Homo sapiens: one gene and its partners. The protein of the gene in region 1 purifies or fractionates together with the protein of each later gene. This does not show direct contact. Each region holds a gene or a part of one and is shown in the gene's direction. Other genes may lie near its edges.

Region 1 (4,959 bases):
GGCGCGTTGGTTCACGCAAGTAATCCCAGCACTTTGGGAGGCCGAGCTAGGCGGAACACGAGGTCAGGAGATCAAGACCGTCCTGGCCAATATGGTGAACCCCATCTCTACTAAAAATACAAAAATTAGCTGGGCGTGGTGGCGGGTGCCTGTAGTCCCAGCTACTTGGGAGGCTGAGGCAGGAGACTTGCTTGAACCTAGGAGGCGGAGGTTGCAGTAAGCCAAGATTGCACCACTGCACTCCAGCCTGGGCAACAGAGCGAGACTCCACTTCAAAAAAATAAAAAAAGGCTGGGCATGGTGGCTCACGCCTGTAATCCCAACACTTTGAGAGGCGAAGGTGGGCGGATCACTTGAGGTCAGGAGATCAAGACCAGCCTGACCAACATGAAGAAACCCCATCTCTACTAAAAATACAAAATTAGCCAGACGTGGCAGCGCATGCCTGTAATCTCAGCTACTCCGGAGGCTGAGGCAGGAGAATTGCTTGAACCCGGGAGGTGGAGGTTGCAGTGAGCCAAGATCGTGCCATTGCACTCCAGCCTGGGCAACAAGAGTGAAACTCCGTCTCAAAAAAAAAAAAAAAAAAAAAACTTGCATGATCCCAGCACTTTGGGAGGCTGAGGCAGGCAGATCACGAGGTCAGGAGATCAAGACCATCCTGGCTAACACGGTGAAACCCTGTCTCTACTAAAAATACAAAAAATTAACCGGGCATGGTGGTGGGCGCCTGTGGTCCCAGCTACTCGGGAGGCTGAGGCAGGAGAATGGTGTGAACCCGGGAGGCGGAGCTTGCAGTAAGCAGAGCTCGCGCCACTGCACTCCAGCCTGGGCGACAGAGCGAGACTCCATCTCAAAAAAAAAAATTGCAGGATATAAACTTCACCATTTTAAAATGTGCAATTTGGCCAGGTGTGATGCTTTACACCTATAATCCCAGCACTTTGGGAGGCCAAGGCTGGCAGATCACTTGAGACCAGGAGTTCAAGACCAGCCTGGCCAACATGGTGAAACCCCATCTGTACTAAAAATACACAAATTAGCTGAGTGTGGGGGCGCATGCCTGTAATACCAGCTACTTGGGAGGCTGAGGCACAAGAATCGCTTTAGCCTAGGAGGTGGAGGTTGCAGTGAGCCAAGATCATGCCACTGCACTCCAGCCTGAGTGACAGAGTGAGACCCTGTCTCCATAAATAAATAGAATGAATGAATGAATGAATGAAGAATTCAGTGGTTATTAGTATGTTCACAGTGTTTTGCAACCATCTCCACTGTCTAATTCCAAAACATTTCTGTCCCCCCAAAAAGAAACTCCCTACCCACTAGCAGTCACTCGCAGTTCCCCAGTTCCCCCTTTCTGCCATCCCCTAGCAAACCCCTAATCTGCTTTGGTCTCTCTGCATTTGACATTTCAGATAAATGGAATCATGTAATATATGGACTTTTGTGTTTGGGTCCTTTCACTGAGCATGTCTTCAAGTTTCATCCATATTATAGCATGTGTCAGTACATTCCTTTTATAGCTGAATAATATCCCATGTATTAATGTACTGCATTTTGTTTATCCATTTGTTGTTGCACATTTGGGGTTTTTGGTTTTTGGGGGTTTTTTGTTCCTTTTTTCACTTTTTGGCTTATGAATAGTGCTGCTGTGAATATTCATCTAGAAGTTATTGTGTGAACATATGTTTTTAATTTTCAGATATATATCTAGTTGTGGAATTTCTAGGTCAGTTTGGGTAGTTTGTTTTTGAAAGTTCATTTTGCTTTAAAATAAATACTCTCATTTCATTTTTATGGCTTCTGGAAGACTTGGTTTTTGCCATAAGTTAGCTAGCCCGATACAAACAGATTTGCCAAAAGTAATAACACGTCAGTAGTGGAAGTTTTCCAGTGTTTTAAATCATGCTTTTATAAATCAAAGAAAACTGAGCCAGGCTTCGTAGCGTGTACTTGTAGTCCCAGCTATGGGAGAGAGTCCCTTATAGCCCCTGCCTTAGGACGCTGAGGCAGGAGGATGGCTTGAGCCCAGGCGTTTGAGGCTGCAGTGACCTAAGATCTTACCACTGCAGTGCAGCCTGGGTAACAAAGTGAGACCCTGCCTCTAAAAATAAATAAATATATAAATAAATAAAAATAAAGAAAACTTTCTCCCTTGCCAGGATCATGTCAAGCCTTTTTTTTTTTTTTTTTTTTTTTTTTTTTTAAGATAGCATCTTAATCCTCCAGTTGTCCAGGCTGGAGTGCAGTGGCAAAATCACAGCTCACTGCAGCCTCAACTCCCGGGGGCTCAGGTGATCCTCCTATCTCAGCTTCTCAAGTAGCTGGGACTACAGGACTGCACCACCACATCTTGCTAATTTTTGTATTTTTTGTAGAGATGGGGTTTTACCATGTTGCCCAGCCTGGTCTCAAATACAAACTCTTGGGCTCGGGTAGTCTGCCCACCTCTGCCTCCCAAAGTGCTGGGATTGCAGGTGTGAGCCACCATGCCTGGCCTAGTTTTTTCTCAATACCTGACATATATACGTTCTTTGGCAATTATAGTAGCCTCCTGCATTCCTCTGTCACCTCTTAATTACCAGCCTAGCTATTCTCAACTAATCTGGGTAGTTTAACAAAACATTTCTCCTAAGAATTGGCTATTTGATTATTATTTAATTGCATGTTTTACTGTTATTCCTCTGTTGCTGGTTCAGGTTTGTCTTTGGCAAAGTGCTTCTTTTTTTTTTCCTTTTTGACTCTTCATTCTTAACTTGAAAGAAATCCTATCAGAGATTTAGAACGTTCTTAGATCTTAACCTAGGGGATATAGAAAATTTTAAAGTAAAATGGTGTTCAAAATATTTTCAGCTAAAAACAAAACTTAAAGATTGGACTAATTTGCAATTTTATCAACAGTGTAGGAGCATAAACTTTTTTTTTTTTTTTTTTTTGAGATGGAGTCTCACTTTGTCACCCAAGCTGGAGTGCAGTGACGCAGTCTCGGCTCACTGCAACCTCTCCCTCCTGGGATTACAGGTGCCCGCCACTACGCCCAGCTAATTTTTAGTAGAGATGGGGTTTCACCATGTTGGTCAGGCTGGTCTTGAATTCCCAACCTCCCAAAGTGCTGGGATTACAGGCGTGAGTCACCATGCCCAGCCAGCATAAACATCTTTATTCCCAAAATAAAAAAGACGAGGCTGGGCACGGTGGCTCACGCCTGTAATCCCAACACTTTGGGAGGCCAAGACGGGCGAATCATGAGGTCAGGAGATCGAGACCATCCTGGCTAACATGGTGAAACCCCGTCTCTACTAAAAACATACAAAAAAAATTAGCCAGGCATGGTGGCGGGTGCCTGTAGTCCCAGCTACTCGGGAGGCTGAGGCAGGAGAATGGTGTGAACTCGGGAGGTGGAGCTTGCAGTGAGCCGAGATCGCACCACTGCACTCCAGCCTGAGTGACAGAGCAAGACTCCATCTCAAAAAAAAAAAAAAGACTAGAAAATAAAAGACAAAAAAAAAGTCTAGAAAATAAAAGTACAAATGAATTGATAAAAAAAATATATATAAACTAGGCCGGGCACATTGGCTCATGCCTGTAATCCCAGCACTTTGGGAAGCTGAGGCGAGTGGATCACCTGAGGTCAGGAGTTTGAGACCAGCCTGATTAACATGGTAAAACCTCATCTCTACTAAAAATACAAAAATTAGCCAGGCAAGATGGCGGGAGCCTGTAATCCCAGCTACTTGGGAAGCTGAGGCAAGAGAATTGCTTGAACCCTGGAGGCGGAGGTTGCAGTGAGCTGAGATCATGCCATTGCACTCCAGCCTGGGCGACGAGCAAAACTCCATCTCAAAAAAAAAAAGAAAAGAAAAACTCTCTAGAAAGAGTGAGTTACTGTTAACTGGTGGTGTTTTTCCAGTGGTCTTTTCCCCACCTTTACATCTAACACTCACCATCATTATCACTTGCAAGTCCATGGTGGCTCCTGGGTTAGATGGCCCTGCTCCTCCACCTGGCTGCTCTTCCCTGACTGTGCTTTCCCCCACAGGACATGATCCACATCGCGGACACCAAGGTCGCCAGGCGTTATGGGGATTTCTTCATCCGTCAGATCCACAAATTTGAGGAGGTGAGAGATCTGAGAGAAGAGGGGTTTGTTGGCTCAGGACAGAGCTTAGGAACTGAATCGAGAGTTTACTTTTTTTTAATTTTTATTCCTTTATTTATTTTGAGATGGAGTCTTGTGCTGTCACCCATGCTGGAGTGCAGCGACGTGATCTTAGCTCACTGCAACCTCTGCCTCCTGGGTTCAAGCGAGTCTCCCTCCTCAGCCTCCCGCATAGCTGGAATTACAGGTGTGTGCCACCACACCCAGCTAATTTTTGTATTTATGGTAGAGATGGGGTTTCACCATGTTGGCCAGGCTGGTCTCCAGCTCCTGGCCTCAAGTGATCCAGTCCGTCTCAGCTTCCCAAAGTGTTGGGATTACAGGCATGAGCCACCATGCCTGGCCTTTTAAATTTTTCATTTCTGTTATTAAGAAAGCCTACTGCCCTCCAGCCTGGGCAACCGAGCAAGACCCTGTCTCAAGAAAAAAAAAAAAGAAAAAGAGGCCAGGTGCAGTGGCTCATGCCTGTAATCCCAGCACTTTGGGAGGCTGAATTTGAGATCAGGAGTTCAAGACCAGCCTGGCCACATGGTGAAACCTCATGTCTACTAAAAATTAAAAAAATTAGCTGGGTGTGGTGGTGCGCACCTGTAATCCCATCTACGCAGAAGGCTGAGGCAGGAGAATGATTTGAACCTGGGAGATGGAGGCTGCAGTGAGCAGAGATCATGCCACTGCAAAAGAAAGCTTGAGGTTGGCCCTTTAAATTTTCAAGCTAGACTGGCTGGCTGCTTGGGGTTTGGGGAGTGGGGTTGGGCCTGTAGGAATTGCTGCATCAGCCTTCTCCAGAGCATCTCTTT
Region 2 (4,229 bases), on another chromosome or scaffold:
TCAGGAGCTGGCAGTTGCATCTGTTGTGGCCACTCGGGGCTGCAGCTGAGGCTGTCGCAGTGACATCTGGTTCACTGCTCTGTCCTCACCACCTGCAGGGGTGGGTGCTAGTGCATATGCTGAATGAACGAGTATCATTTGGGCAGCGTTTCCCAGAGGATTCCAAGGAATGTGAGTGCTGTACAATATTCATAGGTGTTGAATGAAAACAATGTTTTGGAAGTGCTGGGCTCTACGAGGTTCTTTACTCGAGAGTCTGCGGTCTCTGTCACATGCAGATGGACACCGGGGATCTGCAGGAAGCGGGGGCACTGTTGCATTTCCAGCCTCTGTTACCAGAGCCCTCTTTTTCAGTTTGCTGAGGGGCACAGCCTTCCCTGTCTGGCCCAGGGCATCTCCAGGCCAGGTGGCAGGTGCCTTCTGAACCAGATGTTTGTGTGCGGGCTGCCAGTCCATATTTATACTGCCGGGACATGGCTCTCCCTGTCTGGAGGGCACTATGGAGTGTGGATATGGGGGTGGCTCTCTGCAGACTTGTGTGGAGGAAACTGATGGAGGCAGCCATCTCCAGGAGATCAGTCATGGTCCTGGCTGCCATCAGTTTCATCTGGGTGGTCTTGGGTACATGTGGCCAATACTGAAGATGCATTTGGACAATTCATAGACACGGAGCTGTAGGTGCTTTTGGGAAAAGCCATGGATGGGTTTGGGCAAGTCATAGATACATTTGGACGAGCCTTGAGTGTGTTCAGGAGAGCCATGGATGGGTTTGGGCAAAGCCATCTCTGCACCTGTTTGTGTTCCATGGTTTCCTTTTCCTCCTCTCCAGGCAGGGTTAACACAGAGTATCCCCATCCTGCGGCGGGACCATCACATCCAGAGGGCCATCGGTCTCTCCCCAATGTCCTTCCCCACCGCCGACCTTACTCTGAAGGTAACACCAGCCCTGAGCTGGGTGAGGGCCCACCCAGTACCTTAGCTTACAAAGAGGCAGAAGGGAGGAGTCCCCGAACCCCTAAAGCTTAGATTGGCTCTGTCCACTGCCAGCGTGATAGTAATTTTCATCCCTCCCCCTCCCCTTGCTTCTGAAGATGGAGTCTGCGCGCAAGGCTTGGGAAAACTCCCCCAGTTTGCCGGAGCAGAGCTCTCCAGGCGGCGCTGGCTCAGGCATCCAGCCTCCATCCTCTGTGGGTGCCTCCAGCGGGGTCAACTACAGCTCCTTCGGTGGAGTGTCCATGCCACCCATGCCTGTGGCCTCTGTAGCACCTTCTGCTTCTATGCCAGGTATCTCATCCCCTGAGCAAGGCCTTGGGGTCCTTCTCCATTTATTATCAAGAAAAACGGATTAACAGCCCCGAATGTCACCTCCTGGCCTTGTCTTAAGTAGCATGTAGAAGTAGCAACTTGTTTTTAGGCCCAGTGGTCGTAGCTCCCATGTGCTGCAGGTAATGTGCACGTCCTGCTTCCCCACGCTGGGAAACAGAACTGGGGGATAACAGCGAGGCACTCCTGCCTACTGGTGACAGGAGCGAGCAAAGGCTTGACTTTGAGTCAGACCTGGGTCATGTGCTGGAGCCGTGTCGCCTCGGCTGGTGAGCAGCTCTTGCCGAGCCACAGTGTCCTCTCCTCTCTTACATGAAACTCCGTGGGGTGGCCACACCCGTGAGGCCAGGTCTTACCTGGAAAGGGCTTTGTATCAACAGAGCCCTCAGTCACTGGCAGCTACTTTTGTCCTGATTGCTGCCATCCTTATCGTGTGCCAGTGTCCCCAAGGGGAAGCGTGGGGGTTTTGAGGGCCCAGCTGCCAGTCTCAGTGATGTAATTCCAATAGATCCTTCTGACCCTCCACTGTGGACTCAATAGCAGGGAGATGAAGAGGACAGTGACTGAGAGACCAAGGCAGCCCTGGTTAAAGTAGAATGCCCCTTCGAGTGTCTGGGGTAGTTGGTGAGTGGGAGGTGGGAAGGGTAGGCCAGAGCCCACCTGCCTCCTCCCTCCTCCTAGGTCTGACGCTGCACCCTCCCTACGTTCCCTGAGGTGCGTGCCAGGCGTGTTGTGAGCAGGCGTGTGCTTCCGGCACACAGGGAACCTAGCAGCCTCTGTACACACGCCCTCGTCCCCACTGAGTCCCCTGGGTAGAGCAGACCTGTAGACTGTTTCCCTCAGGGACATTGAGAAGTAGTGAGGCTTGATCCTCTTCTACGTCCCTTTTGCCGCTCTGTTTCCAGGCAGCCACCTCCCGCCCCTGTACCTGGATGGCCATGTGTTTGCAAGTCAGCCCCGGCTGGTTCCTCAAACGATACCTCAGCAGCAGAGTTACCAACAGGTGACAGCAGCTAGCCAGGTGGCCTGGCTGGGGGTGGTGGGGAGGAGCCAGTGCAGGGCGGAATTGGCTTGCTCATCTATTTCTCATTGTCTGTCTGGTTTTCCATCCCCCTCACATGTGGTGACCAGCACCTGGCCCGCCACGGCAGCCAGGAGGCATTTGTTAAGCGAATAATCGAGACAGGGAAGAGGAGTGGAGTTGGCTGCTCCAGACTCTGCTTAGTTTTCCTTTCTCAAAGTTCTCCCTCCTGTGTCCTAGCCGGGGAATTAGCTAAAATGGAATTTTCTTTGGTGATCAGGTATCCTTCTGATGAAGAGAAGAAAGGCCTAAACTCCCAGGCATGGATGCATTAGAAAGAGGTAGTCTTAGAAATGAGCAGGCGTTGGTTATTTATGCAGGACTGGCATACTTTCTGTGCTGCCAAGGGGTGATTTTTGGAAGTCTCCCCTCTAATGCTGGTGCTGGGCCTTTGGGATGGTCTAGCCGCCCCTCAGACCCATGTGCCTCCACAGCCACGACAGTGGACTTCCAGGCAGAATCTGCTCCAAGTGCAGGCTTGCTGATGGAGGATGTGGCCTCTGCTGACCTCTTTTTAAAAACATGTTCTTAACTGCTGTATTGTTTGGTTACCAAGATTTTGGTTCTTGCATAACTGGGTCAGACTGCATGTATCTTTCTTTTTGTGCATTGTTAAATTCAGCGTTATGTTTTTGGAACTCACCTCTGTTGACGTATGTGCTAGGATCCATTTTTGTTGCTGTGTAGAATTCCAGGGTAGGGATATGCTGTGGTTTGGGGTTGCTACCAGTTTTTCATTATAGGCTTTATCCCAATAGCAAGGGAAGCCCAGGAATGACATGCTGGCATTTGAATTTTGGGCAGTGTTCCAGCAGCCATGTGGAGAGGGGCAGGGGAGGTGGGAGGGGAAGAACCACCTGGATGGGCCTTGCGGTTACCTCCCCGACCCCGTTTTCCCGTTCACAGGCCGCCGCTGCCCAGCAGATCCCGATCTCCCTTCACACATCTCTGCAGGCACAAGCTCAGCTTGGACTGAGGGGTGGGCTTCCTGTGTCCCAGTCCCAGGAGATCTTCAGCTCCTTGCAGCCCTTCAGGTGAGCTCATGTACCAGCTTGCGGAGCTGGCAGCTCACAGCCAGGGCCTTGGCCCTGTGTGCAGCCTTCGTCCTGCAGCTGTTTGGTGCTTGTCTGCTTTGGGGCCAGTGGGGCGGGGAGGGGTGGGAGTTTGCTCTGAATCACTCTTCAGTCCGTTGTTAACTGTGCTCTAGGAGAGGCCTGGGGCGAGCTGATATGTGGTGGGCCGTGTTTTGCTTTTCCATGTCATCTTGCCTCCTTTCCTTGCTCCTTCCTCCTCCTCTCCCCTTGACTCCCTGTCTCCTCCCCACCGCGGGCTTCTCCGTCAGTGTGGCTGCCAGTCATTGTGGCTGATGTCCTGTGCCTCGTACAGCCTGGATGTCTTCACTTGTTTAATCCAGCAGCATCAGCGCCATCTAGGAGCTTGTTCTCAGGCCCCATCCTGGACCCTCTGAGTCGCGCTCTGGGGGTGGGGCCGGGGATCTGTGGTTTAGCAAGCTCTCCGGGGATCTCTGAAGGGTGGGACCAGATCCGCAGCTGGACTCATCCACCTGATCCCGACCATCTGTCTGGCTTTTGCAGATCTCAGGTGTACATGCACCCCAGCCTGTCACCGCCCAGCACCATGATCCTCTCTGGGGGCACAGCCTTGAAGCCTCCATACTCGGCGTTCCCAGGCATGCAGCCCTTGGAGATGGTGAAGCCGCAGTCTGGCTCACCCTACCAGCCCATGAGCGGGAACCAAGCCCTGGTCTACGAGGGCCAGCTCAGCCAGGCTGCTGGCCTGGGTGCCTCCCAGATGTTGGACTCCC
Region 3 (4,229 bases), on another chromosome or scaffold:
TGAAGGGGAGAGTGGGAGGCAGCTTTCATCGGGAGCCTTCAGCTGGCCTGGCCCCTTTCCTTTTGCACAGGTAGTTTGAGTTTCATACTAACCCGGAAGTGAGTGCCTGCCAGGTAGGGGAAGGTTTTTAGGAAGTGGTTTTTGGCCCTTTGGGAGGTAGAGGGTAGTCACAAGCTTTCTTGAACTCTGAACCTCCTGAGGGTCGGGGTCTTTCTGCTGACCCACCCACTGTCTATAGTGGGACCTGAACTGGAGTAAGCAATCTTAATAGCTGTTACTGAGCACCCATTCTCTTTTCTGGGAGGTGGGCAGGGTGGGAGGAGGAGGAGGAGCAGCCGGCCTGAAACTACAAAACCTCTTTAAGATGGAGAGCTTGGCAGATGGGAGTTCCCCTGTTTGCAAAACCCAAGACAGCTCAAAGGGAGTAATTAGGGTGTTGGGGCCACTGGAGGTTCAGCAGGTGCCTCAGTCCAGACTCAAAAACCTCCCTGGCTGGTCCAGAGTGATCTAAGGGAGTGGCCAGGAGAGAGGATGGCCTTACCTTGCCTGGGATTCAAGAAAGGAAGTAAGTTTTGGTACCTCGCTGGTGAAAACATGGGAAACAGCACATCAATGTGAAGGGAGAAGGTGATGGGATTTAAATTAGAACATGGGCAGGGTACTTCTCTCTGCTCTCACTTTGTGACCTTAGATTGTTTGTCTAACCTGTTTTCCTTATTCACAGAATGGGGCTAATCCCGGTGCTGAGGTTGTTTAGAGCGTCAAATTGCTGTTGAGTATGGGGCAGTACAGTTCATGAATTGAAAAAGTCCTGCTGGGCGCGGGGGTTCACACCTGTAATCCTAGCACTTTGGAAGGCCGAGGCGGGCGGATCATGAGGTCAGGAGTTTTAAGACCAATCTGGCCAGCATAGTGAAACCTCGTCTCTACTAAAAATACAAAAAAATTAGCCAGGCATGGTGGCGTGTGCCTGTAGTCCCAGCTACTCAGGAGGCTGAGGCAGGAGAATTGCTCGAACCGGGGAGGCGGAGGTTGCAGTGAGCTGAGATCGTGCCACTGCACTCCAGCCTGGGTGACAAGAGCAAGACTCCATCTCAAAACAAAACAAAAAAACCAAAAAAACCTCCTACACAGAGGTAAGATGTAAGTTTTTTTTTTTATTTCAGAAGATTGCATTCCAAAGCCAGATATTGGTAATTACTCACTCTGAGGGTTTATCTGTGCCTTTCCGGAACTGAGTGGATAATCAGGAGTTAGCTGAATTTTCAACAAGGGCTATTTGTGGTAGTTACCAGGGGCAAGTGGCCAACTTCACATGGCTAATAGCCTGGGATGTCTTCCTGAAGGATGTTCCCAGAATCAAGGACAGTCCTAGTGTGGCACCTTTTTTTTCTTGGCTGAACCTTTAGACTGGCAAAGCCCTAGGTGTGGGGAGGGGAGGATTGTGGGTCTTCATAGATGAATTTTGTAAAGCCAGCTTGGTAGATCTGTCATATATGGCATGGGACTTCTCCATCTCAGTTTGATGTGCTGTTAGTAAACCTAGATGATTCCTCCATGACAGGCCTTGTTTACAGGCCACTTTGTAATTATTCTCCAAACTAGTGGTAACCACCTTACTCTCAAGACATACATTCCAGCCACTCAAAGTTGCCTTTTTCTTTGCCTTAGAATGGAGTTGCAAGCTTCTCAGAGGAAATTAAGTCCCACAGTAGCCAGGAGCCATCTAGATAAATGATCTGATAGAGATAGGGCTCTGTATGGTTTTTGCTCTGCTTTTCACTTAAACTAATTTATTTAGGCTCTTGATAATTCAGAGATAAGTAATAGTACTGGAATAGTCACCATTTACTGCATTTACTGAGTGTCTCACCTGTTCTAGCCCAAGTGATCTGCTGAGCAGATGCTTTTTTTTTTTTTTTTTTCTTTTTTTGAGAAAGAGTTTCTCTCGTTGCCCAGGCTGGAGTGCAGTGCACGATCTCAGCTCACCGCAACCTATGCCTCCTGGGTTCAAGCGATTCTCCTGCCTCAGCCTCCCAAGTAGCTGGGATTACAGCCATGCACCACCACGCCTGGCTAATTTTTTGTATTTTTACTAGAGATGGGGTTTCTTCATGTTGGTCGGGTTGGTCTCGAACTCCTGACCTCAGGTGATCTGCCCACTTCGGCCTCCCAAAGTGCTGGGATTACAGATGTTAGCCACCGCGCCTGGCCCAGCAGATGCTCTTTTTATTCCCACTTCACAGATGAGGAAAGTGAGACTCAGGAGACGTTTAGCAACTCTGTCCTTCTAATTGCTCAGACTAAAGACCTTAAGATCATCCTTGCCACCTCTGTTTTTTTTTTTCTGGCTGGTTGCAGTGGCTCACACCTGTAATCCCAGCACTTTGGGAGACCGAGATGGTAGGATCATGTGAGCCCAGGAGTTCAAGGCTGCAAGTGAGCTGTGATTGTGCCACAGTACTCCAGCCTGGGCGACAGAGTGAGACCCTGTCTCTAAAAAGTAAATGTCTTTTTGTGACCCCACATGTAATGTACTAGTACATCCTTTGACAATTAAACACTGTGTCCTGGCCGGGCACAGTGCCTCATGCCTGTAACCCCAGCACTTTGGGTGGGAGGCCAAGGTGGGCAGATTGCTTGAGCCTGGAAGTTTGAGACCAGTCTGGGTAACATAGGGATACCCCATCTCTTACAAAAAAAAAAAAGTACAAAAATTAGTCGAGCATGGTGGTGCGTGCCTGTAATCCCAGCTCCTGGGGAGGCTGAGGTGGGAGGATCACTTGAGCCTTGGGAGGTAAAGGCTGCAGTGAAAGATGAGTGTGTCACTGCACTCCAGCCTGGGCAACAGAGCAGGACTGTCTCAAAAAGAAAAAGCTGCCTGGGTGCGGTGGTTCACGCCTGTAATCCCAGCACTTTGGGAGGCCGAGGCAGGTGGATCACCTGAGGTCAGGAGTTCAAGACCAGCCTGGCCAACACAGTGAAACCCTGCCTCTACTAAACATACAAAAATTAGCTGGGCGTGGTGGCATGCGCCTGTAATCCCCAGCTACTCGGGAGGCTGAGGCAGGAGAATCGCTTGAACCTGGGAGGCAGAGGTTGCAGTGAGCTGAGATTGCACCATTGCACTCCAGCCTGGGTGACAGAGCAAGACTTCATCTCAAAAAAAAAAAAAAAGCTGCATCCAGGTTGGGTGTGGGGGCTTATACCAGTCATCCCAGCACTTTGGGAGGATCACTTGAGCGCAGGAGTTCAAGACCAGCCTGGGCAACATAGTGAGAGACCCCATCTCTTTAAAAAAAAATTAACTGGGTGTGGTGGTGCATTCCTGTGGTCTGAGCTACTCTGGAGGCTGAGGTGGAAGGATTGCTTGAGCCCAGGAGGTCGAGGCTATATTGAGCAAGAGCCACTGCACTCCAGCCTAGGCAATGCAGTGAGACCATGTCTCAAAAAAAAAAAAAAAAAAAAAAAAACTGGCTGGGCGTAGTGGCTCACACCTGTAATCCCAGCACTTTGGGAGGCCGAGGCGGGAGGGTCAGTTGAAGTCAGGAGTTTGAGACCAGCCTAGCCAACATGGTGAAACCCAGTCTCTACCAAAAATACAAAAAGTAGCTGGGCGTCATCGTGCACACCTGTAATCCCAGCTACTTGGGAAGCTGAGGCACAAGAATCGCTTGAACCTGGGAGGCAGAGGTTGCAGTGAGCCGAGATCATGCCACTGCTCTCCAGCCTGGGCAACAGAGCAAGACTCCATCACAAAAAAAAAAAAAAAGAAACAACAAAAAAAACCTATGTCCAGATCTAAATGCTTGTACCGCCTCGTCTCTTGCTGGCCTGGACCATACATCATCATTTCTCATGTAGATTTTTGCAGCAGCCTCTTAACTGGTCTCCTATCACTCCTACTTAAAGCCCTCTGGTAACTTCTTAGCAGAGTAAAATTCAGAGTCCTTAGAGTGTTCTCTAAGACCGCACTTGATCTGGTCTCTGTCCACCTAACCTCTGACCTCATCTTTCATCACTTGCCCCTTCTTCACTCATTCCCTTCCAGCATCAGTCCTCACTTCCTGAAACATGTCATGTACTCTTTGCTTTGGGTCTTATGTTCTGTAGTGCTCTTCCCGCAGATCACTGTGGTGGAAATGCCTTCCCAGACCACCCTATATAGACTAGCAAGTCCTGACCTTGGATTCCCTCTCTCCATCCCTCTTACCCTGCTTCATTTTTCT
Region 4 (4,229 bases), 6.4 Mb from region 1:
TGTGACAAGTACTCAGAGATGACATAAGGATTATAGAGAAGGTAGCAATTAATTTTACTAGGTAGGGCAAAAATGGGTAGGCAGGGCAAGCTTCCCAGAGAAGGTCACATTTGAATTTCGCCTTGAAGGATGAGCTACAACAACCAACCTGTAGGCAAGTGAAAATTGCCCTCATGCCAGGTTTCTCATAAATACCTTAGGTTGCTGAGCCCTGACTGAAAGTGGTGCTACAGGTGCATGGGCAGAAGCAGAGCTAAATTAATTTGGTTCCATTTTTAAGCAGTAAGAGACTTGCAAAGACTATCCTTTAAAAAAAAAATCACTAGAAAAAGAACTAGGCATGGTGCTGGACACAGTGGCTCACTACTGTAATCCTAGCACTTTGGGAGGCCAAGGCAGGAGGATCACTTGAGGTCAGCAGTTTAAGTCCAGGCTGTGCAATTTAGCGAGACTCAGTCTCTACAAAAAATTAAAAAATTATCCAGGCATGGTGGTGTGCACCTGTGGTCCCAGATACTCTGGAGGCTAAGGCAGGAGGATCACCTGAGCCCAGGAGGTAGAGACTACAGTGAGCTGTGATCGTGCCACTACTCTCCAGCCTGTGCAACAGAGCAAGACCCCATCTCAAAAAAAAAAAAAAAAAAAAGACCCCCCTCCACTATAGAAAATATGAAGTTCCCACGAAGGGAACCATAATCCTCCCCACATCCCATTGGTATTCTAGCTTTATTAAGGCTTTTTTCCTTTTCTGCCTCCCGTAGAAGGGGGACTGTTTTATTCTTGCAAGTACAGTACCTGCACGAGAAGTCTGCTTTTTAAGTCATGTGTGGCTCTTCTACATGTATACTGATGGCTGAAGCCACAGAGGGACACTGGAGTGATTTACTTATCAGACGGTTTTTGTCCTGGTTTTGCTTTCAGGTATAGTAGAGTGCAATGGAGGAGTGGCCGAAGAGGATGAAGTGGAGGTCATCCTTGCACAGGAGCCTGCGGCTGATCAGGAAGTGCCAAGGGATGCTGTCTTGCCTGAGCAGTCCCCAGGAGACTTTGACTTTAATGAGTTCTTTAACCTTGATAAGGTGCCATGCTTGGCTTCGGTGAGTGTAGCAGCACACTTAAAAAATGTGTGGTTAAATTTGACCTGAGTATTTAAGACATCGGTTTGAAAGTGTTGTTTTGCTAGATGCTTTTGGGGTTTTTGGCTTTTATTCTTACATATTTAAATTTTTGTTGGCTTTGTTTTGAGAGGCTTAATGGATAATATGAGATTTTTGTACCAGTTAACTCTTTTTTAAGCTGGTGGTGTTAGACTAAAAATTCTTTTTTTGTTGTTTTTTTTTTTTTGAGTTGGAATCTTACTCTGTCACCCAGGCTGAAGTGCAGTGGCACGATCTTGGCTCATTGCAACCTCCGTCTCCTGGGTTCAAGCGATTCTTCTGCCTCAGCCTCCTGAGTAGTTGGGATCACAGGTGTGTGCCACCATGCCCAGCTAATTTTTGTATTTTTAGTAGAGATGGGGTTTCACTATGTTGGCCAGACGGGTCTTGAACTCCTGACCTTGTGATCCTCCTGTCTTGGTCTCCCAAAGTGCTGGGATTACAGGCGTGAGCCACCGCACCTGGCTTTTTAAAGTTATTTTTAGAATTCCTGTTTATCACTAAGATGCTTATATTTTGGATACACTCCCCAATTTTTCACAGTGATGTATCATGCTTATCTTATATTTTAATTAATACAAAATTAGTGCACTTAAAAGTCAGCATTATTTAAGGTATGAGCATCTACAGGTGGAATGTGATTGAAATTGTCTAGATAATTCCTCTGAAAATAGAAATTCTGGAAACAATAATTAGGGTCTTGAATTAAAATCCCTTCAAAAGAAGTATATTGTGGCTTAATTTGGGTATGGATTATGAAAACATTCTTCCAGATAAGAACAAAGAATAAATCTAAGCTTCCCCTGCTTAACTTTGGAAACTGTGGGTTCCAGATTTCAAATAAAACAGTCACTAATTCTGTCATCCATGTACCAGTTTTTGAAAAAGCATGTTTTCTGTTTATCAGTGGGATTGACGTGAAAGTATATGACTTATTTTCAAGGATATGTCTGATTTTTGGATAGATGTTTGCTCTATCTTGTCTTTTCTAAATATTGATAAGAATACTGCAAAAAATCAATTTGGATATTTGACTGAATTTATGGTATGATTTGAATTGAAAAATTTTTTAAATGCTTAAATCTAGTTTTTAAGAAAGATTGGCACTATTTCATAATTTCTACCAAAGCAATTTATTGTTCATAGTGTGTTATTTAATTGTCCTTATTAAATGTAAACTATGGAGGTTGGATTTGGAAACAGAAAACACCTGAAAACTCTCTATTAATCTCAAACAGAAATTAGAGATCAGTTGAAATTTCATCTTCCACAATCATACTTTTTCTAAACTTTGACTTGGAATTACAGTCTTTATGAGCTCTGCTTTTTTAGCCTTTGGCTTCTGAAACTCTCAAGATTGAATTTCATAATGTTCATTACAACCTTGAAACCACTAAGTTTGAAGCAATGGTTTTCTTTCATCAGTTCCCCATACTTGATATTTAGTTGAAGGTCACTCATCAGCTTGTCAGTGGAATGCTGTGGCATTGACACTGTTCTCTGAGAACATTTGGTAGTACGTGGATTTACTCCTGAGGCAAAGGATAGAAACCCAAAAACCTTTTTGTAGCATAGAGGCTTTGCTTTATATTCTTAGAAAGTAGTGGTGGTTCATGCCTGTAATCCCAGCACTTTGGGAGGCCAAGGCAGGTGGATCATTTGAGGTCAGAAGTTCGAGACAAGCCTGGCCAACATGGTAAAAACCCATCTCTACTAAAAATAAAATTAAAAATAGCCAGGCATATGGTGGCGTATGCCTGTAGTCCCAGCTACTCGAGAGCCTGAGGCATAAGAATCACTTGAACCTGGGAGGCAGAGGTTGCAGTGAGCCAAGATTGCACCCCTGCACTTCAGCCTGGGCAACAGAGCGAGACTGTCTTAAAAAAATAGTAGACCGGGTGTGGTGGCTCATGCTTGTAATCCCAGCACTTTGGGAGGCCAAGGCGGGCGGATCACAAGGTCAGGAGATCGAGACCATCCTGGCTAACACGGTAAAACCCCGTCTCTACTAAAAATACAAAAAATTAGCCGGGCGTGGTGGCAGGCGCCTGTAGTCCCAGCTACTCAGGAGGCTGAGGCAGGAGAATGGTGTGAACCCGGGAGGCGGAGCTTGCAGTGAGCCGAGATCGTGCCACTGCACTCCAGCCTGGGTGACAGAGCGAGACTCTGTCTCAAAAAAAAAAAAAAAAAAGTAATAAAAAATAAAAAAGGAAAGTAAGTAGATGGTTATACTCAAGTTTGGGTTATTCAGAAATTACCCAGGATGGAGGAAGAAAAAGGTGTTCAAATTCCTAGGTTCTGAGAGTATTTATCTTCAGGTCACGAGCATGAAAGGAAGTTTCAAAGTAAGTGACCCTTTCATAAGATTTAAACCTTCTTGTCCTTTTTCATCTAGAAACTATTAGTTTTTATTGTCTTTTTCTTCAGATGATAGAAGATGTTTTGGGAGAAGGGTCAGTCTCTGCCAGTCGGTTCAGTAGGTGGTTCTCTAACCCGAGCAGATCAGGAAGCCGATCCAGCAGTCTTGGGTCAACACCACATGAAGAGCTAGAGAGACTTGCAGGTAAAATGGCTTCAGATTCTGCCCTTGAAGGTAAACCTGGGTTTTTCCCTGATATGGTTCATTTTATCTTCATTAGTCAGGAGTCAATTAGGGTCAAAGGGTCTCTGGACAACTGAAAAGCCTTCAATTTGTGTCCTTTTAATATTGTTGAAGGGGCCGGGTGCAGTGGCTCACGCCTGTAATCCCAGCACTTTGGGAGGCCAAGGCAGGCAGATCACAAGGTTAGGAGTTTGAGACCAGCCTGGCCAACATGGTGAAACCCCCATCTCTACTAAAAATACAAAAATCAGCCAGGCGTGGTGGCGGGCATCTGTAGTCCCAGCTACTCAGGAGGCTGAGGCAGGAGAATCGCTTGAAACTGGCAGGCGGAGGTTGCAGTGAGCCGAGATTGCGCCACTGCACTCCAGCCTGGGCGAAAAAGCGAAACTCCATCTCAAAGAAAAAAAAAAAAAAAAAGAAAGAAAGAAAAATACTGTCGAAGGCATGTTTCTTTACTGGAACAGATTAAT

What was found.
Region 2: the proteins of EIF3L (region 1) and PRRC2B purify together in Homo sapiens (affinity purification with mass spectrometry; 2 studies listed by BioGRID and IntAct, with this or other methods). This does not show direct contact.
Region 3: the proteins of EIF3L (region 1) and LARP1 fractionate together in Homo sapiens (co-fractionation; one large-scale study listed by BioGRID). This does not show direct contact.
Region 4: the proteins of EIF3L (region 1) and EIF4ENIF1 purify together in Homo sapiens (affinity purification with mass spectrometry, with the first as the bait; one large-scale study listed by BioGRID). This does not show direct contact.

Annotation. Positions count from the first base shown.
Region 1 is NC_000022.11:37,882,726-37,887,684, forward strand, and holds part of EIF3L (eukaryotic translation initiation factor 3 subunit L), read left to right. Parts: intron 1-4,039; coding exon 4,040-4,120; intron 4,121-4,959. UniProt on the Homo sapiens protein: Component of the eukaryotic translation initiation factor 3 (eIF-3) complex, which is required for several steps in the initiation of protein synthesis.
Region 2 is NC_000009.12:131,483,857-131,488,085, forward strand, and holds part of PRRC2B (protein PRRC2B), read left to right. Parts: intron 1-829; coding exon 830-934; intron 935-1,091; coding exon 1,092-1,284; intron 1,285-1,808; exon of another isoform or gene 1,809-1,894; intron 1,895-2,228; coding exon 2,229-2,326; intron 2,327-3,310; coding exon 3,311-3,438; intron 3,439-3,999; coding exon 4,000-4,229.
Region 3 is NC_000005.10:154,761,148-154,765,376, forward strand, and holds part of LARP1 (la-related protein 1), read left to right. Parts: intron 1-4,229. UniProt on the Homo sapiens protein: RNA-binding protein that regulates the translation of specific target mRNA species downstream of the mTORC1 complex, in function of growth signals and nutrient availability.
Region 4 is NC_000022.11:31,455,343-31,459,571, reverse strand, and holds part of EIF4ENIF1 (eukaryotic translation initiation factor 4E transporter), read left to right. Parts: intron 1-921; coding exon 922-1,097; intron 1,098-3,584; coding exon 3,585-3,720; intron 3,721-4,229. UniProt on the Homo sapiens protein: EIF4E-binding protein that regulates translation and stability of mRNAs in processing bodies (P-bodies). Plays a key role in P-bodies to coordinate the storage of translationally inactive mRNAs in the cytoplasm and prevent their degradation.